Homo sapiens: one gene and its partners. The protein of the gene in region 1 binds, or shares a complex with, the protein of each later gene. Each region holds a gene or a part of one and is shown in the gene's direction. Other genes may lie near its edges. The genes, in order: HERPUD1, FAM8A1 and UBE2J1.

Evidence for each region.
Region 2: HERPUD1 (region 1) and FAM8A1 share a complex: the UniProt entries of both Homo sapiens proteins name them as parts of the HRD1 complex.
Region 3: HERPUD1 (region 1) and UBE2J1 share a complex: the UniProt entries of both Homo sapiens proteins name them as parts of the HRD1 complex.

The regions. Positions count from the first base shown.
Region 1 is NC_000016.10:56,935,142-56,942,141, forward strand, and holds part of HERPUD1 (homocysteine-responsive endoplasmic reticulum-resident ubiquitin-like domain member 1 protein), read left to right. Parts: intron 1-93; coding exon 94-171; intron 172-259; coding exon 260-334; coding exon of another isoform or gene 335-336; exon of another isoform or gene 337-350; coding exon of another isoform or gene 351-356; intron 357-1,545; coding exon 1,546-1,676; intron 1,677-4,095; coding exon 4,096-4,218; intron 4,219-4,753; coding exon 4,754-5,104; exon of another isoform or gene 5,105-5,260; intron 5,261-5,724; exon of another isoform or gene 5,725-6,990; coding exon 6,991-7,000. UniProt on the Homo sapiens protein: Component of the endoplasmic reticulum quality control (ERQC) system also called ER-associated degradation (ERAD) involved in ubiquitin-dependent degradation of misfolded endoplasmic reticulum proteins.
Region 2 is NC_000006.12:17,603,168-17,610,333, forward strand, and holds part of FAM8A1 (protein FAM8A1), read left to right. Parts: intron 1-1,738; coding exon 1,739-1,862; intron 1,863-2,706; coding exon 2,707-2,846; intron 2,847-5,027; coding exon 5,028-5,172; 3' UTR 5,173-7,166. UniProt on the Homo sapiens protein: Plays a role in the assembly of the HRD1 complex, a complex involved in the ubiquitin-proteasome-dependent process of ER-associated degradation (ERAD).
Region 3 is NC_000006.12:89,349,668-89,357,062, reverse strand, and holds the start of UBE2J1 (ubiquitin-conjugating enzyme E2 J1), read left to right. Parts: upstream 1-4,340; 5' UTR 4,341-4,493; coding exon 4,494-4,524; intron 4,525-7,395. UniProt on the Homo sapiens protein: Catalyzes the covalent attachment of ubiquitin to other proteins. Functions in the selective degradation of misfolded membrane proteins from the endoplasmic reticulum (ERAD) and is essential for cells to recover from ER stress.

The DNA.
Region 1 (7,000 bases):
ATTCAAATTACTTGTATAAAACAGTTTATTCTGTGTTTAGGAACTTGTAGGGGTGAAATGCTGACCTGTGTTACTCTTTCTTTCCATGATCAGCGTCCAGAGGACCAGAGGTTAATTTATTCTGGGAAGCTGTTGTTGGATCACCAATGTCTCAGGGACTTGCTTCCAAAGGTACATCACTTACACATTAACTTCTGAATGTTTTTAAGCACTCACCAGGTTAGGTTCAGGTCCTTAAGTACCTTCGTATTACTTTTAGCAGGAAAAACGGCATGTTTTGCATCTGGTGTGCAATGTGAAGAGTCCTTCAAAAATGCCAGAAATCAACGCCAAGGTGTGTCTGCCTCTTCATGATGGTAACAATTTGTATCATTCAGACTTTCAGGGGAGTAATAAAAGAAGTTGGATAAAACGTTTATTGAGAGACTGTATGGTGTTATTACCAAGTAATATTTTGTTTCTTTCCTAGGAATTAGAAACTGTATTATCAACACAAAGTGATGAGTTAATAGTAGCAGATTGTTCCGTTAGTGCTGTAGTAGAAAGGTGGAGTTACATATTGCACTATCTTATGGGATATGATTTGATCTATGGTTACTGTGTATCTAGATTACTGAACTAACACTAATCGGGTTTTTATTGAATTTAGCACATAGCAAGTTTCTTCAAAGGAGTCACTAATTTTTATAAAGAGTACAAAAGTGAATATATTTCCTTTGGAAATTTTCATTGTGATTAGTTGGATAGGAAAAGATCAGAGTTTTTATCAAGTGATCTTTAAAGAATTTTTTTTTTTTAAAAATGGTCTCGCTGTGTGGCCCAGGCTTTTCTCAAACTCCTGAGGGCAAGCGATCCTCCCACCTCAGCCTCCTGAGTAGCTGGGACTACAGGCATGTGCCACTAGACCTGGCTCTAAAGACATATATGACACACGAAACCATTTATTTTTCATTTCACAATGTTTATTCACATATATGGTATTAGTATTCTAATGTAGTGATGCACTCTAAATTTGCATTATATTTCCTAGAACATCTGAACAGAGCATAGGAAATTCCCTATTTTGCCATTATCAGTTCTAACAAAAATCTTAAAAGCACTTTATCATTTCATTTCCCTGCACTGTAATTTTTTTAAATGATCAAAAACAGTATCATACCAAGGCTTACTTATATTGGAATACTATTTTAGAAAGTTGTGGGCTGGGTTGTATTTATAAATCTTGTTGGTCAGATGTCTGCAATGAGTAAATTTAGCACCATTATCAGGAAGCTTTCTCACCAATGACAACTTCATTGGAAGATTTTAATGAAAGTGTAGCATACTCTAGGGAAAAAATATGAATATTTTAGCATCTATGTATTGAAAATTATGTTGAATAAATGTCAGACTATTTTTTACATAACGTTGCTTCTGTTTAATTTTGTCACGTTCAGAGGTGGGGGGTAGGAGATGTAAGCCCTTGACAGCAAAATAATTCCTTTTGCTTGATTTCAGACAGTTGCATCAGCTCCTTTGTTCTGTGTTCATGTTACACTTATTTAGGTGGCTGAATCCACAGAGGAGCCTGCTGGTTCTAATCGGGGACAGTATCCTGAGGATTCCTCAAGTGATGGTTTAAGGCAAAGGGAAGTTCTTCGGAACCTTTCTTCCCCTGGATGGGAAAACATCTCAAGGTGAGTGTTATAATAAAGATCTTGGCTTATGCAACATGAATGTTCCTCGTTTGCATCAATTTAAGAATAAGGTATGTTTACACGTATATAATCAGAACTTTTAAACATACAGAATTTTGCTTTATAAATAGCTTCGCTTTAAAGATCTCTTATATATTTAACTTTTCTTAATACACAGCCTTTTAGTACACACAAATTTAAAAAGTAGGTAATGCATATATTGAAAAAAAAAAGAAAATGTAGGCGTTTTATCCTTCCATTGTGCTGACCGCTTGGTTGCCGTCATGATAGGAAATTAGTGCTGCTGCAGGAGAAAACAGCTGTCGTAAGCATTGTGCAGCTGCTTTGCTGAGTGGCTTTGTGCTTTATTGTAACAATGGGTGACAACAAGGGAGAGACTGTTTAAGAAGTGTCCTTCCAAAGACTTGGGGGTACTAGGAAAATTGGCCAATTTCTTATAACTATTAAAGCTTTTCTTTAGAGCAAAAGTCAGAACTAAATGCTCTGTTATTTGGATTTTTATAGCTCTTGGAATACATTGTTTTTGGGGAAAAATTCATTAACTGCAAGTTGCAATTCTGTAACTCTCCAATTCTCCGTCCCCCTTTTTCTAGTACTTTTTATACACAATATTTTATAAAGCCAGGTGTTTTAGGAATGAGTTTTTCTTCCTTTTCCCCCTTAATGGAACTTTCAAATATACACAACAGTGGGGACTGGATAATTAATCCCCACACCATCACCCAGGCCTAATAAATAACAATCAGAGTTTTACCATAGCTCATCTATTACCCTTTCCCTTTTTTTTAAAAAAAGAGTATTTAAAAGTAATTCCCAGGCATCATGTTATTTCATCCCTATATTCTTCAGTATATAACTATGAAAACCTTTTAGTTATCTTGTATATCTAGAATGCCATTATCAGATCTAACAGAAATCTTAAAAGCACTTTATCATTTTATTTCCATGCACTGTAATTTTCTTAAATGATCAAAAACAGCATCATACCAAAGCTTACTTGTATTGGAATACTATTTTAGAAATACTCTGTGTATGGAATTTAGTTAAAAGATTGTCAGCATATAAATTGGATAATTATTGGATAGAAAATTATTGGTTAGAAAAACTTAAAACTACTTCCCTTATTCTGATTCAACTATTCTTAACTTGAGAATTGAGGCTCATATTTGACTCTCTGAATCTCACCATATTTAAACTTGATTTCCTTTAACAAATATTTATTGAACAGCCAGTACATACAACTTTGCTTAAGGATATGAGTTGACCTGCAGGAATGACCACATAACCAATTTCTGATCTTTGGGCAATTCTATTATGGTTTCAATTTTGTGATGTGCTACTGAAGAAATTGACTGTGTAAGAAGCACAAAGCCAAAGATGACTCGCATACACCTGCCCTGTGAAGTTGAGGGCTGTGTGGCCTGATTAAAGAAGCATGCATTTGGCCGGGCGCGGTGGCTCACACCTGTAATCCCAGCACTTTGGGAGGCCAAGGTGGGCGGATCACGAGGTCAGGAGATTGAGACCATCCTGGCTAACACGGTGAAACCCCGTCTGTACTAAAAGTACAAAAAATTAGCCAGGTGTGGTGGCGTGTGCCCGTAGTCCCAGCTACTGGGGAGGCTGAGGCAGGAGAATGGTGTGAATCCGGGAGGTGGAGCTTGCAGTGAGCCGAGATTGCGCCATTGCACTCCAGGCTGGGCAACAGAGCGAGACTCCATCTCAAAAAAAAAAAAAAAGAAGCATGCATTTGACATCAGACCAGCTCTGAAATCCAGCCCTGCTACTTACTAGCTCAGTGACCTTGTGCAAAGCCCCTGTCTTCCCTGAGCTGTACTTGGGTTCCCCTTGTAAAATCTCCTTCATGAGATTGCTGTGGACCCAGCAGCCTGTACAGGACCCCCGGTGGTCAGTAAGCATGCACAGGTGATACCACATGCACACTTCACTATAGATTCAGATGGAGGATGGAGGAAGAAGTGGATATTGGGAGGATGGGAGAGATTTCCTTCAGGAAAGACTGGGAGAAATGTGGCTTTTGAGCTGCTCTCTAAAAGATGAACAGTGGGTTGAGACCTGCAGTGAGACTCAACAAGTCAAAACTGAGGTGGGATCTACTTAACCCAAAAAGGTTGTTTATATATCTGTGCACTCAGCAAGCAGGTGGCAAGGGCTGTTGTTTTCCTGTGGGATGGGACTGTGGTAGAAGTGCTGTGTCATTTAGTACCTTCTGTGCTTGTGGTACATGGGTGCGTCATACAGTCATTTACCATGTAACTGCCGTAAATTCCATTCTTCTGTCTCTTCGATTTGAATTCTTGATTTTAATTTAAACTTAGTTTTCATTTGTTCATACTCAACCCACTCAAAATGAGTGTTTTTTCAAATCTATGTATAGGCCTGAAGCTGCCCAGCAGGCATTCCAAGGCCTGGGTCCTGGTTTCTCCGGTTACACACCCTATGGGTGGCTTCAGCTTTCCTGGTTCCAGCAGATATATGCACGACAGTACTACATGCAATAGTGAGTCCTTCCCGCCATGCTGGGTGTGGCCAGGGCTCCCGGGAATTGAAGGGAATTTTATCCATGTTACCTGTAAAGTTCAGAATGGAGGGATGAGTGTATTTTCATCAGTCTGCAGAGCCCTGCTCTGTTTGGTCTGTGGGTAGAGTGTAAATGACAGCTGCTACCTGATTTGTGTATTGACACAAGGGTGCTTTTGTCTGATACATAGTTTAGTGACTTTATTTAGAACATGTTACTTTCTTTTCAATTTGTGCTATCTTCAAAGTTTTGTGAGGATTTTAATTTGCTACTGTGCCATAATCTTACAGTGGGCTTGATGTTTAATTTCAGGTGAAATTCACCTTGTGGCTTTTCTTAGAAAAGGCATTTATAGATATAGTTAGTAAGGAAGTTCTTCACTAAATTGAAGAAAAATCAAAGGCATATCTACCTACTTGAAATTCTTAACAGTAAAAGACTGCTGTGTAAATAAGCCACAGACTTCACGGTGCTTTGGTCTCAACAGTATCTGCCTCTGTCGTTTTTATTTTAGTTTAGCAGCCACTGCTGCATCAGGGGCTTTTGTTCCACCACCAAGTGCACAAGAGATACCTGTGGTCTCTGCACCTGCTCCAGCCCCTATTCACAACCAGTTTCCAGCTGAAAACCAGCCTGCCAATCAGAATGCTGCTCCTCAAGTGGTTGTTAATCCTGGAGCCAATCAAAATTTGCGGATGAATGCACAAGGTGGCCCTATTGTGGAAGAAGATGATGAAATAAATCGAGATTGGTTGGATTGGACCTATTCAGCAGCTACATTTTCTGTTTTTCTCAGTATCCTCTACTTCTACTCCTCCCTGAGCAGATTCCTCATGGTCATGGGGGCCACCGTTGTTATGTACCTGTAAGCAGATGGTTTCTCTAATATAAATTACACTACACTGTGTTCACACTAAGCAGATTTTGCTCTTTTTGTTTCTTGTTTTTTTTGAGATGGAGTCTCGCTCTGTCATTCAGGCTGGAGTACAATGGCACAATCACTGCAATCTCCGCTTCCCAGGTTCAAGCGATTCTCCTGCCTCAGCCTCCTGGGTAGTTGGGATTACAGGCGCCCACCACCATGCCTGGCTAATTTTTATATTTCTAGTAGAGACGGGGTTTGGTCATGTTGGCCAGGTGGTCTCGAACTCCTGACCTCAAGTGATCTGCCCACCTTGGCCTCCCAAAGTGCTGGTATTACAGGCGTGAGCCACCACTGCGCCTGGCCAGATTTTGCTCTTTTTTGAGCAGTCTCAGTTACTGTAGAAGGAGATGTGTTTAAATAGTATATCACTCTGTGGCTGGGCGCAGTGGCTCACACCTGTAATCCCAGCAGTTTGGGAGGCCGAGGCAGGAGGATCACATGAGGCCAGGAGTTTGAGACCATCCTGGCCAATATGGTGAAACCCCGTCTCTACTAAAAATACAAAAAATTAGCCGGGTGTGGTGGCACGGGCCTGTAATTTACTTGGGTGGCTAAGGCAGGAGAATTGCTTGAACTGGGGAGGCAGAGGTTGCAGTGAGCCAAGATCGCACCACTGCACTCCAGCCTGGGTGACAGAGCAAGACCCTGTCTTAGAATAAATACATAATAAATAGTATGTATTCTGGCACTTTCGATACAAGGAATTCATGGCTTGGTTGTATGGTCCCAAGAACATATCAATCCTGTGTTAATATAAGAATATTATCTTGTCCTCTAGATAAGCTACCTTACCTTCCAGGCTCACAAACCACAAGTATGTAGCCATACTGAGGCATGGAACAGAAAACTGTATTTGTTTTGAATGAGAACACATTTGCCTTTATCAGACCACAGCTGCCTTCCAGGGTAAAGTCAGGCACTGACTGTTAGCATGGCCCTGAAAGGCAAGGGAACCTTCACATACCTGACATTTGGTTTTAGCTGTGGCCCGAAGCAGTAGTTCTCAACTGGGGGTGGTTTTGTACCCTCTCTCCCCAGGGGACATTTGGCAATGTGTAGATATTTTTGGTTGTCACATCTAGGGGAAGTGGTCCTGCTGGCGTCTAGTTAGTAGAAGCAAGAGTGCTGCTGAATTTTCTACAATGCACAGGACAACTCCCACAGTAAATATTTGGCTCAATATGTCACTAGTGCCAAAGCTGAGAAAGCCTGGCCTAGAGTGATGGGTCTTCGTGGTTGAAACTAAAAGAAGAAATTTTCCTGTATAGTAAAAATGGATTTTTATTTTAGCTTTTAAAAATAAAAAAGGAATAATTAGAATATAATGAACACTCAAATATCCACAATTAGTCATTGTTAATATTTTATTATATTTAAGACTTGGGATTTAATTGGTTTCTTCAAATAAAACGTTTAGTTAATATTTTCTGTAGTCTCTAGAATCATATATTTAAAAGACCAAATGTAGGTTGTCATTATGTTATATATAATTATAGCTTTGTAGGTATATGCATTCTCCCCGCTCTGTTCAGGTTTTCAAGGGTAAGGTTTAGTTCGTCATAAGCATTTATTGAGTGCATACTATGTGCCAGGTGCTGTTTATATGGCTGGGTGTGCAATGATGAATAAAACACAGTCCCTGCCTTCAAGGACCTTACAGACTGGTGAGAATGTCTGGGAGACAGTGTGATCAAATGCCTCTGTAGATGGGTCTTGCAGTGAGCTTATCAGGGTGCTGCTGTGATTAGAGGTGGGGAGCCTTGGATTCTTGAGTAAGTCTCACTGTGACATCAGCTAAGATGGACTTTTATGTGCTTCCTTTGAAGGCATCACGTT
Region 2 (7,166 bases), on another chromosome or scaffold:
GTGAGACGTTTATTTGAGTAATCCTTCCAGATTAACAATAATCATAATAGCAGTTACCACTTCCTGAGTACTTTCTATATGCCATGTATTGAGCTTGCTCACTTCTTTATGTGGATTCTTATTTAATCTTAATACCAAGATGAGGTGTAGAGATTAATACCACCATTTTATAGAGTTTGAAATTTGGGTTTATGAAAAGTTGAGCACAGAACCTAAAATGTTACAAAGGTAGTAAGTGACAGAGTCAAGATACAAGCCTGTGCAGTCAAATTTCAGGGTCCTTGCCAGAAACCTGTTACTGTGATTCCTCCCTGTCCCTCCCTCTCACTCCACTCCACATCCAGTGAAATACCAACTCCTTTATGTTCAATTTTCTGAATAGCTTTCAACCCCAGACCTCCTCACTGCCAGATCATTTTTCTTTTTTTGAGACAGAGTCTTGCTCTGTCACCCAGGCTGGAGTGCAGTAGTACAATTATGGCTCACTGCAGCCTTGATCTCCTGTGCCCAAGTGACACTCCCACCTCAGCCTCACAAGGAGCTGGGACCACAGGCATGCTCCACCATGCCTAGCTAATTAAAAAAAAAAATTGTTTTTTGTAGAGATGGGGTCTCCCTATGTTGCCCAGGCTGGTCTCAAACTCCTGGGCTCAAATGATCCTCCTGCCTTAGCTTCCCAAAGTGCTGAGATTACAAGCATGAGCCACCACACCTGGCCCATTTTTTATCATCATTGCTTCTCCCTACTCCGATTACTGTCGTCTCTTGCTTGGATTATAGCAGAAGCCTTCTAGTGGTAACTCAGTCTCCTGTTTTATCTCAATCCAGTCTCTGATATAAAACCAAAGTGATCATAAATCCTGGTTCTGTTCCTTTCCTACCTTAAAACCCTTCAATGGTTTCTCTTTTTAAAATGTTTATTGTTTTTTTAGAGATGGGGTCTGTGTTGCCCAGGTTGCTTTCAAAATCCTAGGCTCAGGCGATCCTCCCACCTCAGCCTCCCAAAGTGCTGGGATTACATGCGTGAGCCACCATGCTCAGCCCCTTCAATGGTTTCTCTTTACCAGCAGGATAAAGTCTGAATTTCATCATGTGGTTTATACTCAGGAGGCTGTCTCAACCTCCCAAGTAGGTGGGACTGCAGGTGCATACCACCACACCCTGCCTTTATTTCTTAATCACTGCCACCTCTCACATTTAGTATATGAGCCACACCAAACTGCTTACAGCTTCTATCATATTCTCTCTTTCTCCAAGACATTCTCTCCTGCTGTTCCCTCTTTCTGGAACGTTATTTCCTCTTCTTAGTCTGGCTAACTTCTCTTCATCCTTCAGAGCCTCATCTAACTGTCTTTTCTGGGAAACCTTCACAAGGTTAAGTGTATCTGGTGTATGTTTCCATAGTATCCTAGGTTCCCCATCACAGCACTCATCCCACTTTATTATTGCTATTTATTTATTGTTCTGTTTTCTTTGCTAGGTTAGACCCTCCACGAAAGCAGGGACCGTGTAAATTCATTCACCCTTATTTCCCCCGTGCTAGTACAGTGTCTGCTCATGATAATGCTGCTTATTTGTTGAATAAACTAATGAATGCTTTATGATACTAGATGGTTGGGAATCTAAAGATTAGTTTAGAATTTCAATTAAAATGTATGACTTGCACTAATGAAAAAAAAGTCAGTGCTACTGTTCTGGTAACTAATTATTTATAACCCCAAACTATTATTTTGTGTAGGGATATCTCTAAGTTTGCTATGCATTATATAATAGAAGAAATAGATGAAGACACATCAATGGAAGACTTGCAGAAAATGATGGTTGTGGCACTTATATACAGATTATTAGTTTGTTTCTATGAGGTAAGCTACTGACTTCAGCAAGAATTAATATTTAACAATCTAATTTTATGTTTTTACATTTATTTTTTTGAGACAGAGTCTCGCTCTGTCACCCAGGCTGGAGTGCAGTGGTGTGATCTTGGCTCACTGCAACCTCTGCCTCCTGAGTTCAAGTGATTCTCCTGTCTCAGCCTCCTGAGTAGGTGGGACTACAGGTGCATACCACCACACCTGGCTAATTTTTGTATTTTTAGTAGAGACAGGGTTTTGCCATGTAGGCCAGGCTGGTCTCAAACTCCTGGCCTCAGTGATCTGCCCACCTTGGCCTCCCAAAGTGCTGGGATTACAGGCATGAGCCACTGCACCTAGCCAACAATCTAATTTTAGATTATCAGCCCAAGACGAAAAAGTAATCGAAATTTATAATTATTCATGTCTTTTCCACATGTCTACTTTTCTGTTTTTTTTCCCAAATTTTAACTAATCATTAAGTAAAAACTTTTGGAAGAGAGACATTTTACAATTTCTTTGTAATATTTTTCAGTCTTAGAAACTCAAATAAAATTTCACTTATAGATTGTGGTCCAAAAATATACTTGTAAATTGCAATGTAGTTTTCTGCAGAAGCAGCTTACTAGAAAGTATAGTAGTCATAGAGAAATATTACAGGAGACAGACATCTTGTGGTATTGGACATGTTAGAGACCTACAGAAATGCATAAAGTTAAATGGTTAACTTTTGAGTATTCTATGCAATTCTTTCAACTTGAAAAATTTAAAACATGAAATAATATGGTGGGAAAAGTTTATCTTTAAAATTGGTATAGTTGAGCCAGTAATTTTTAAATCATCCTTCTTTCCTTAGATAATTTGCATTTGGGGAGCAGGTGGAGCTACCCCAGGGAAGTTCCTGCTGGGGCTTCGAGTTGTGACATGTGATACATCAGTGCTTATTGCACCAAGTCGGGTTTTAGTGATTCCTTCCTCAAATGTTAGCATTACAACGTAAGTCCTTTTCTTAGCTTAATCTACTACATACTTAATGAAAATAATGTGTTTTAGAATATTGGGGTTTTTTTCTTCATAGTAGATAGGCTTATATTTATTAAGTTAAAACAAAGTTTGAATATTTATTTCAGTTGTGTTACATGATTGTAGACCTCTTTTACAGTACACATTTTCAAGATGATTTTTTTTTTTTTTTTTTTGTGAGACGGAGTCTCACTCTGTTGCCCAGGCTGGAGTGCAGTGGCACAGTCTCGGCTCACTGCAGGCTCCGCCTCCCAGGTTCACGCCATTCTCCTGCCTCAGCCTCCCGAGTAGGTGGGACTACAGGTGCCCGCCACCACGCCCGGCTAATTTTTTGTATTTTTAGTAGGGACGGGGTTTCACCGTGTTAACCAGGATGGTCTTGATCTCCTGACCTCATGATCCACCCGCCTCCGCCTCTCAAAGTGTTGGGATTACAGACGTGAGCCACCATGCCCTGCCTCAAGATGATCATTTTATGAATTATAAGTCACAATACGAGAGGATGATTTGGGTGTTGATGGTGTATTAGTGCTCCACAATCAGCTTTATTATTCTTTGGACCTGTGGATGTTAGGTCAGGTACTAGTCTGCCTTGAGTCTCCATTTGGCCATGCCTGTCATTATTCCATCTTGAATAGGCAGCAGAGTTTTGACAGCTATGCATTCGTGCATCCTTCTCCTGCTGTTAGGTGAGAGCTTGTAATACTGCCAGTATTCAAGGTTAGCTGTTGGCATCTAGCGCTGGGGGAAGGTACAACCAGTGATAATGGAAACTGTGGAGGTCAGTGGCTGGTAGTCAGTTGAGCCAAACAAGGTATTGGCTGCAATTTTTGCCAGAATGATTCAGAGCTGGATTGTTACATCAAGAAATATAAACAAGTGATTCTAGAAACCTTGGTTTTGCCATCTTCAAATTTTTCTTAAAATTTGGTAGTTATAGCCGGGCACAGTGGCTCACGCCTGTAATCCCAGCACTTTGTGAGGCTGAGGTGGGCAGATCACGAGGTCAGGAGATCGAGACCATCCTGGCTAACATGGTGAAACCCCGTCTCTACTAAAAATACAAAAAATTAGCCGGGCGTGGTGGCGGGCCCTGTAGTCCCAGCTACTCAGGAGGCTGAGGCAGGAGAATGGCATGAACCCGGGAGGCAGAGCTTGCAGTGAGCTGAGATTGCACCACTGCACTCCAACCTGGGCGACAGAGCAAGACTCCATCTCAAAAAAAAAAAAAAACAAAACAAAACTGGTAGTTATAAACCTACCTACTTCTTTTAATAAGAGTCAGTAATGGCTAATGTTTATTGAGTACTTTTTATATACCTGCACTGTTAATAACACTGCATATGTATTAATTTAATGCTAACAACCTCATAAGATAGAGACTATTGATCTATATCTATAGTATCATAAGATACTATAGGTAGTCTCTATCTATATACTATAGGTAGTATCTATATACTATAGGTAGTATCTATATACTATCTATAGTATCATAAGATAGATACTATTGTTCCCTTTTTGCAGATGTGGAATACAACTAGTAATTGGTAGACGATGGATCTGAATTTAACTAGTCTGGATTCAGAACCCACACTCCTAGCCACTGTACTTTTCTGCAGCCCTTCAGTGCACTAAAAGGCAGAAATCTAACATAAGTAGGATAATTCTCCATCCTGAGTGATTGTTGAAAGCTTTTAAAAGCTTTGCTTAATCACTGGATCCCACAAAGGAAAATGCTGATTAAAGAACACACAGTACTTTAAAATGCATGTTTTTTCTATAAGGTAGACAAATGGGACTACAGTAAGCATACTCAGAAAGTACTCAGAATTAATGTTCATTTCTTCTGAGAAAATACTAGAAAGCTCTGTAAACCATTAATTCAATATTCTGAGACATGTTTATTACTGCTTTTTATGTTGTTGAAGTCTTATTAGAAATAGCCCAGGTGGTTTGATCATGATACAGTGCTACTTGAAAATATATCAAAGGTAAAAATTCTCTCAACTATACCTTGAATGTCTTTTTCCCTGTAGACTTCTGTAGAGAAGTACAATTGTGTTTTAAATGTCTATTTTGAACTTGATGGGATACCATTAATCTATATGTGGTTTGATGTGTAACTTACCTGATATTTTTGTTTTAACTTTTTAGGTCCACTATCCGAGCTTTGATCAAGAATTTTTCAATTGCTTCTTTTTTCCCTGCTTTCATCACACTGCTGTTTTTTCAGCATAATCGAACAGCTTATGACATTGTAGCAGGAACCATTGTGGTAAAAAGAAATGGGGTCAGATGATGCCCCCCAAAACCCTGATTTCCACACACTAAGACTAAATTATGTATCAAGGCCATCAGTATCCCTGGGTTACACTAATTGATGATTTAGAAATTAAAGCAGTCACTCCAGTGTGATGCAGGTGACTACTCTGAAAGTATTGATTATACTTGAATGCCAAAGAACTTGTCCAGAAGAAAAACCTGTTAAATTCAAGTATTAAAATTTTTAGATCAAAAAGGCAAATGATTTTATAAACAATGGACAATATATACTTTCTTAAGATCTAAGGTACTTTCTTAAGATCTAAGAATTTGCTGAAAGCATTTTCAGCTTTGAAATCTCCAAATGAAACTTTAAAATTTATTTTGGTTTATCCCAAAATAATGGAAAATGTCCAGTTGTGTTTTGTAAACACCTATGTAACTCATCTTTTAGTTTACACTTCCTGGGGAAATTGTCTTTGGTGTTTAGAGGAGGGAATGAGAACACAAATTGGATAATCCACTGTCTCCCATCCCAGGAGGTGGTGAGTTGGCTACAAGAGAAAGGGACAAGTGAGGCAGGCCTAGCAGTTCCCTTACCTGAAGTTTTCAAATCCATACTGCAGTTCCCTCTCGTAATGATGTAACTTTACAACTATTCTTAATGCTTGAACATGTATTTAGGGGCAAGTTTCTCATGATGATGAAAAAGTATCAAGTCATATTGCTATGTTAATTGGTTTTTTTTTTTAAAAGGTAAGTTAGTGATTACTGTTAATGGTGGGGGAGTAAGTTTTCACTGTAAATTGAACTTATAATTTATGTGCAAGTGTTTTCAGTGCCCTGAATCAAACTATAAATGTGGGGAGAAATCACCTCCATCAAACAGTTGCATATTTACTGTAAAAGTATTCCCAGTATGTGTGCAGCATGAAGAAAGTATTAGTGCTTCTCAGTGTTCTCAGTGTAAATTCTATTTATATACAGCATATTCACATACTACTTTCCTTATATTTTATATAGTTCTATGACTGTTGAAACATCAAGGAGTTAAAAAAATCTTAATATTTCATGATTAACTCTAAGTACTATTAATTAATAGCTTGCGAAATATTAGCAATTTTCCCATTATGGACTATTCTCTCTAAAGCAAGAGAGACTAGCATTCCCAGACATCATTCTAGGGTCTTTAAGCTCATTTTGGGTCTGCTAAAGTTTGGGGGGAAATGTTACGCAAAGTGATACTGTGTATGTTGCCATTTTGCTTTATTCTTCTGTTGAAGCAAAATTGTGGGGTTTTATTATGTGTGTGTGCTTTTCCTAGATGTCCCAGTTAGCTGTGCTGAGATATACCTGTACTATTTATGGTTTAAGTTTTGATTCTTAGGTATTTTCTCCAGCTCTGACATTGTTTTCCAAAGACACACTAAACTGCATTGCACAGTTCAAAATTTGATTACTTAAGGGATCAATCTAGGTGGTGTTCTTGGTCTTAAATTTAACAGCAAACACAGCACATATCTATTATCACTATATTAATTTTCAAAGGTTTTTCTTTGACGTTTAAAACTGTGACAACAGATATTCACATTTGATTATAGAAACTTAATGTCTATTAATAATTTTAGTACAAAATTTCATAAACCGTGTTTTTCAAAATAAGTTTATGTCAAATCCAGCTTCCCAGAAACACTAATAATTAAGTACATCAATGTACTAAATAAATCATTCAGTTGCACCCATGGGGAAGATTGTGTTACTGCCCTTCACAGTGAAAAAAAGAAAAATCTTTCATTTTTAAAATTAGGAGATGTTACGTAACTTGGCACTTTAGTAGTGTATACACTAGCATTAGTTTATACACCACTTTTGCCGCTGGGGAATTCAAGTTGAAATGTCCCTCAATCATATAGGTCTGGAATACATCTTTCATTCATAATTTCTGCTCAGATAATTGAATAGTTTGCCATCGAGATTATTTTCATTTATACTATAAAACAAAAGCAAACTAGTCCAGTTTAATTTTTTGTA
Region 3 (7,395 bases), on another chromosome or scaffold:
CTAGTATTCTAAGCACTCTACTGTATTTCAAATATATTTGCTTGATATCCCTCCATAATATTTTCTCCTGAAATATATTAGAAAAGTGTTAAAATAGAATGAACAAGCAAGACCTATCTTGAACATAGGAGAAACTGAGAAGAAAAAAAAAAAAACAGAAGCATTTTCTCTCCTAGATCTTTCAGCTGGCTGCCAGATGGTAAGCAAAAGCATAACTATTAGACCTGCAATTGCACTAAGGTGAGGCACCCAAAAACTGAGAGCTCCTTCCTGCCTGACATTTTTGTTCAGGTAACCAGAGTTTAAACTTGTGTCCCTGGTAATAACACAACTAACATCTCCATTACATTAATACCAGCTACATCCCCATGGGAAAATGTTCCATGTTTCTTATTAACCAATCCCAAGGGGAAATCCTGGGGGTAAAACAAGAGAAAAAACTATAGCAGGTGGTTTTTTTTTTTTTCTGAAAAAAAAAAAATTATAAAGTATTCAAGGTAATTAACAAAATGTTTACAATAAAGTCTACACTTGATCTTAGCCAAAAGACTGAGAAGCGATGCAATAAAATTTATATATGGCTTTCTGAGGTTTTTTTTTTTTTAAATTTTACTCTAGGAAGACATTGATGTAAAATAAGCTGATTCACACTATCAGTTTAAGTGATAATAACAATGCAACTGGCAAAACAAGTAATCCAGTTAGCTAATGGCAGATATTTTAAGTATAGAAAAGTATATGTGGTATAATGGGATATCAGTTCTTAAAATATCTATGCCTTATAAACAAAACCTCAAGGTAAATATACCAAAATCTGTATCATGTCCTTTTCTAAGCAGGAGGATTATGGGAGATTTGGATTTTGTTCATATTCCACATATTGAACCACTGTATTACTTTTATGATCAAGAAGAAAATCATTTAAAAAAAAGTTTCTAGTGCTAAAGAATAAGTAAAATGTGTGAACCAAGAATAGCTCGGAGGTTGTAAGAAGCATATACTTTTTTCAAATAGTGGAAAACTCAAATGTCACAAAACAGCCTGATTCTTTTTAGTGTAGCAAAAAAACCCAAGTTTCAGAGTCAGAAGACCTGGACTTGAATCAGGGTTCTTTCATTTTCTAGATAAGTCACTGAAGTTTTTTTTGAATAAGTCATTGAAGCTTTAAGAACCTTTATAAAATATATTTCAAAGTATTCAAACCAAATCAAGAAATAGATGAAAATCTAGAAAAATTTCCTCTCATTAACATAAAAAATCATATGCCAGAAAGATAATAATCTGTAGTTGAAAAAACTGAGAAGTAGACACTTGATTTCTCTGAGACCTAAATTATCTTCATCTGTAAAATGGGTATAAATAATCAGTGCCACTTCCAAGGCTGTTATGAAGAATAAATGAGTTGATGTTATGTCAAGTGCCTGATAAACAGTAGATGCTAAAAAACTATAGTCCAGACCTTGCACAAGGATGCAAATGGCGGTGGAGAAAGGGCCTGCACTTCAAAGGACTTCTGGTTCCTAACTAAGGAAAAGATGAATTACACAGGTCAAGGATTGTGGTTCTAAGATGTTTTCTAAGATTCTGAAACATTTTAAACCTCATCTTTTGTCATTTTTATTAGTTACGAAGTCGGCTTTAAGGATTAAAAAAAAAAATCTTAAAATGAAAAAAAAAAGGAGTTTTCCTTAGGATCATCAAAAGTAAAGAAAAAATTACCCCAAATTTGATCTTGGATTAAAACTTTACCTGATATAATTTGTAAATTTTTCTTGAAAGAAATAAGTGTTCTAGTTTAAAAAAATAAGCAATTTTTGGATAAGAAATTTTCCAAGGAAATGAGCTCCCTTCCCACCCAGCTGTCAGTCAAGAATTTAGTAACCTTTAAATAAAATTACTCTTCTCTTTGTATCTGTCTTTTTGAGACAGGGTCTCGCTCTATCACCCAGGCTGGAGTGCAGTGGCACCATCATGACTCACTGCAGCCTGCTCCTCCTCTTCCATCCCCCAGAGCTCAACTGATCCTCCCTTCTCAGCCTCCAGAGTAGCTGGGACCACAGGTACGTATGCCCGGCTAATTTTTGAGTGTGTGTATATTTTTAGTAGAGATGGGTGTCACCATGTTGCTCAGGCTGATCTCGAATTCCTGAGCTCAAGTGATCTGCCCACCTTGGCCTTTTTTTTTTTTTTTTTTTTTTGAGATGGAGTCTCATTCTGTCTCCCAGGTTGATCTCGGCTCACTGCAACCTCCGCCTTCTGGGTTCAAGTGATTCTCCTACCTCAGCCTCCCGAGAAGCTGGGATTACAGGCATGCACCACCACACCCAGCTAATTTTTGTATTTTTAGTAGAGACAGGTTTTTGCCATGTTGGCCAGGCTGGTCTCCAACTCCTGACCTCAGGTGACCTGCCCGCCTTGGCCTCCCAAAGTGCTGGGATTACAGGCATGAGCCACCACACCTGCCAGCCACTTCTCTTTTCTCTGTAAATGTCTCTGCTGAGAGAAATTTTGGAATTGGCTTTGATCTTGGAGCATGATTGTAATTAAGCTTTGATATGTGCCCATAATTAAATTGTTATGGGCACATGTCCACAATAAATTGTTGTTATTGTTGTTAACCAAGGAAGGAGAGATTGTTATTCCTACTGAACCAGTCCTATGGGAGAAGAGCCCCAGGGAGCAGTGGAGGTGGTGGTGGCTAAAGGAGAGCCCCAGAGGACAACTGCACCCAGAGATTGATGGACCTTGGAGGCTGAATAGCAAAAGGCTTCTAGTACTCAGCTATCAAATAGGAACGCATTATATACAGCACCTGCTTTGCAGGCCTTGCTGTGGTAGGGCCTACTGCACAAATTAGGGGCTTTTGTAGAGCTGTGGCAGGAGAGGGTGTCAAGTGTCAGTTAATCTGAAGATTCAACACAATGAATGAATGAAGCAGCATTGGAGTTTGGTTTTGTTTGCATATCTCAGTCAGTCAGATTATCAGTTTACTATACAGAAAACAACATCAGGGAATGATTTAAAATATACCATCTAATTTTAGATATCCTTCACTTTTTTACTCCCAATTTCATCAAGAAACTCACAGATTTAGATTAACTTTAACAATAGAAAACAAATCAAATTTAAGAGTTTATGTCTTTATATAACAGAATAAAACTTGCCCAACCTGATTAACCCTTTCTATCCTCCCCACCTTCCCAATCCCTCCCTCCTTTCCTTTAGTAAGGTCCCTACTCCTTAAGTCTTTTGAACTCAGTCCTCTCTCGATCCCACACATTGGACAATGAAGCAGTAAGTGTGTCCTTTGAAGTTTAACCTTTCATATTTGTATGCTTTCCCTCACATTAAATGTAATTCCTTTTTTTGACAGCTTTTACATCTAAACAAACCAAAAAAAACAAAACTCCTGCAATGCCTAAAACATGTCGTGCACCTAACACACTACCCGAGAAAAAAATTGTTATGAATATCCAACTCTGGCCAGAGCCGTGGCTCACGCCTGTAACCCCAGCACTTTGGAAGGCCGAGGCGGGCGGATCGCTTGAGTCCAGGAGTTCGAGACGAGCCTGGCCAACACGGTGAAACCGTGTCTCTAACAAAAATACAAAAAATTAACCGGGCATGGTGGCACACACCTGTGGTCCCAGCCACGCTGGAGGCTGAGGTGGGAGGATCGCTTGGGCCCGGGAGGTAGAGGCTGCAGTGAGCCAAGATCGCGCCACTGCATCCCAGCCTGGGCGACAGAGCGGTGACACCGTCACACACACACACAAAATAAAAAATAAAAAAAATCCTATTCCATTTCCTTGTCACTGGCTTTCCCCCTCCTCACTTAACCCCCGCCCCTCGCAACAGCAACTGAATCTAAAAACAAAGCCTTTCCCAGACCCTGCGGGACCGCGCGCGGGCAGCCGGCTGCGGACAGCTTTGCAGCCGGAGCCCGGCGCCCCCTCCGAGCTCTCGAGGGCCCGGGGGTCCCGGACCTCGCCTACAGCGGGCAGGGCCGGGACGAGAGGACGAGGACGCCGCTCGCTCCTGCACCTCCCCAAGCCGGCTTCGCCGGGCGGGCGGCGGCTGGGTAGTGACCGACCGCCACGAAGCTACTGCCACGTCAGGGCAACTTCACAAATCCCGGACGAGGGCGGGTGACGCAAGCCGGGCGGCCGCGGCAGGGCTGGGCCTGCGACTACCCGAGGAGGCTGACCTCCAGCCCGGGCGCCCGGTTCAGCGCCGCCCCGGCCGGCGCCGGTGCCTGCCAGGCACTCAGGGAGGCGGGGGCGCAGTGGAGGAGGCGGCGCCATCGCGAAGCGAGCGCCTCGCCCGCACTCAGCCTTGCCACCCCGCCCGCAGTCCAGGCTGGACTGGGCGGCATTTGCCGAGGCTCCTCGGCCAGGCCCCGTCCGCCCGAGCCGCGCTGAGACCCGGGCAGCGGCCGCGTGGAGAGGAGGTGGCAGCGGCCCGGGAGGCCGGAGCCAAGCCAGCGACCCACCATGGAGACCCGCTACAACCTGAAGAGTCCGGGTGAGCAGGGCTGGGGCCCCTGGGCGAGGAGGGCGGAGTGACCCTGGACCCCGGGGTGGTCGCCGCCTCGGTCCCCTCGCGTCTGGCGCCACTCGCGGCTCAGCTCCTGGTTTCGCGCTCTACGCGAGACCGCCGCCTGCCCGGGAAGTACAGGCCGCAGGGCGAGGTGGCCGGGTGGACGTCCGCTGCCAATCCCCCGGCCGGCCAGCGCGCCCCGCAGCACCCAGCCTCTCCCTTTTCTCATCTTCGCCTGGTCCCGTAGAGCTGGGTCAGAAACTCATCCCTGAGAACAGGTGTAAAGGTGATGTCGGTGGGCGATAGTCATCAACCCCCTCGCTGTACCTGGTCGCTATTCCCTCCCTGTCGCTGCCACCGGACTTCTATTTACTTCTATTTACTGCCGGCTGATTTACTCACATTTGAGGAGTTGGTCGTTTAAATATCCTATTTGCAGCACTTGGGCGAATACAATTACAGACATAAAGGAAATGTTCTGTAACTAAACCAGTTAACTATAGAGCTAAAGCAAAACAAAACAACAACAAAAAAACACCTCGTTGAGCCCTGTTCTTGAGAGCTAACCTTGATTTTTGCCAGACTGGCTAATATGAAATGTATCTGTATTCAGTCGTAGCGATTCCTTTCCTGCATTTAATGATCCTGCTTTATATTTACACAAGCAGTCCCAGCAATCCTAGCCTCTAATTACTTTCTGGTGCATTATAAAGATAAGCAACTAGCTTTCTCAGCTTAATAAAACAGGCTTGAAATGAATCATTGGATCCTCTAAATGGTATTTTTTCTATCTGTACCTTGATACATTTTGTCAGGGGGAAGAAACTCCACAGTTAACTCTGCATGATAAACTCTAGGATATTAGTGATGATTTCACCAACTTTTGCTGTTGCTTAAAATTTCCTTCCAAAAAAAGCTGTTTCTCAGTAGGAATTAGCAAGACTAGCATCCTTGTGGAAAGAGTTGACACTGTGAATCTTTGGGTTTTTTGTAAGGTTTCAGAATATGCAAAAACCCCAGAAAAGCCTGAGGATATTGATTGGAGGGAGCTTTGTTAGCCTGAGTGCTGTCAGGCTAAGAAATGTCCTTAGGTGACCAAGTGTGTAGAACTGGTCATAATATTTTAGGAGCCACTGACTCCTTAAAAAAATCTGATGAAGACCTGGCACGGTGGCACACGCTTGTAATCCCAGCACTTTGGGAGGCTTGAGCCCAGGAGGTGGAGAGCAGCCTGGCCAACATGGTGAAACCCCGTCTCTACTAAAAACACAAAAATCAGCCGGGCATGGTGGTGGCGCACTCCTGTAGTTCCAGCCACTCGGGAGGCTGAGGCAGGAGGATGGCTTGACCCGGGGAGGAGGTTGCAGTGAGCCGAGATCGCGCCACTGCACTCCAGTGTGGGCGACAGAGCGAGACTCCATCTCAAAAAAAAAAAAAAAAAAAAAAAAAAAAAAGAGAATCCCGGGGTGGGGAGGGAGGAAGAAAAGACCAAAGAGAAAGAGGGAAAGAAAAGCTTAATTTTTAAGCTAGATGGTAAAATGATTGAATTATTTACATTGTGGTATATTTAACTGGAGCTGTTTGGGTAAAAATGTATGGTGGCTCCCTGGTCACACGGTTCCTTAGGACAGCAGAGGTGCTTAGTGAAAGGTCCAGAGGATAATGCACATGTGAGTAGTAGTGCAGTTTAGAATGGAGAACTGGTGGAACCCAAGAGATTGTTGTCAGAAAACATCGCTCAATTTCGATAGGTTAGACTTAATACTATGATGATAAGCTTTTAAAAATCTCCAGAATTTTGTATATTTCCAAAGTATGTGAACTATTGTCAGCTGGTTGAGCTTTGGTTGACATGCTTCTAGCTGTGTCATAAATTGCTTCCTTTTTCTGGTTTCATTTCCTCAAAGATAGTGTTGCTGCTCTAAAAAAAAAAACACAATGCTTCTTAAAAATCTATTTTTGTTAGTGTGTGAATTATTTGGAGTTCATGGAGAAGTTGAATTAGGTAAGATATGGGACTTACTGAAAATGCTGGGAGGCATTGTGAAAATACTTCCTTCCTTTGCTTTATTCTCAGTCCTGTGGTATTTTTAGAGTAATGCCTGTGTGAAGGGGAGCAACTGAAAACTCCAATTTCCTGTGTATGGCAGGGTGCACACACACACACACGTAAAATACCAACATACCAGACAAACAAAAAACAACCACACAATGTGAGGGATATAATCTTTTACTCTTTATCTGATGTGGGATTGTCTTTGATGTATGAGTGGAAAGATTAAGTGAAGACAATACAGATAGCTGGTTAAGGGCCAGTGTACTAGCATGTGGATATAGTAAATTTTTTCATTTCATAGGTGGGGAAACTTTTTGCTTTATGGTTTTTTTTTGGAATGGACTTGTGATTATGGATAGAGCTGTTGTGTAGGATCACCTCACAGTAGTTGTCTGTGGTAGTTGTCAGTAGTTGTCTATGGATCTGCTACTGTAGTAGCAGTAGTTGTCTATGGATCATGCTACTTGTCTATAATCTGTCAATAGTTGTCTATGGATCAAGCTACTTGACCCGTGTTTGGGTCTGCTCTGGCCAAGGAAGTAGGGTCTTATAGTACAAAGTGAAGAAATGTGTATAAAGCACCTCCTTTGGCAGCTTCTTCATCAGGGGGCCATTGACATGTGCAGCAGGTGGTGGGAGTATAAGAGACTGGTGCAAAAGTACCCACTGCCTCCACCAGAAGTCTAAGAGTTACCTATCCATGCCATTGGTGTCAACTGCACCTTCCCACTAATCCACTCAAGGTTTCATGTCCAACTCAGGCCCTTCTCGTAAGCTATAGATACACAGAACTTATGGTG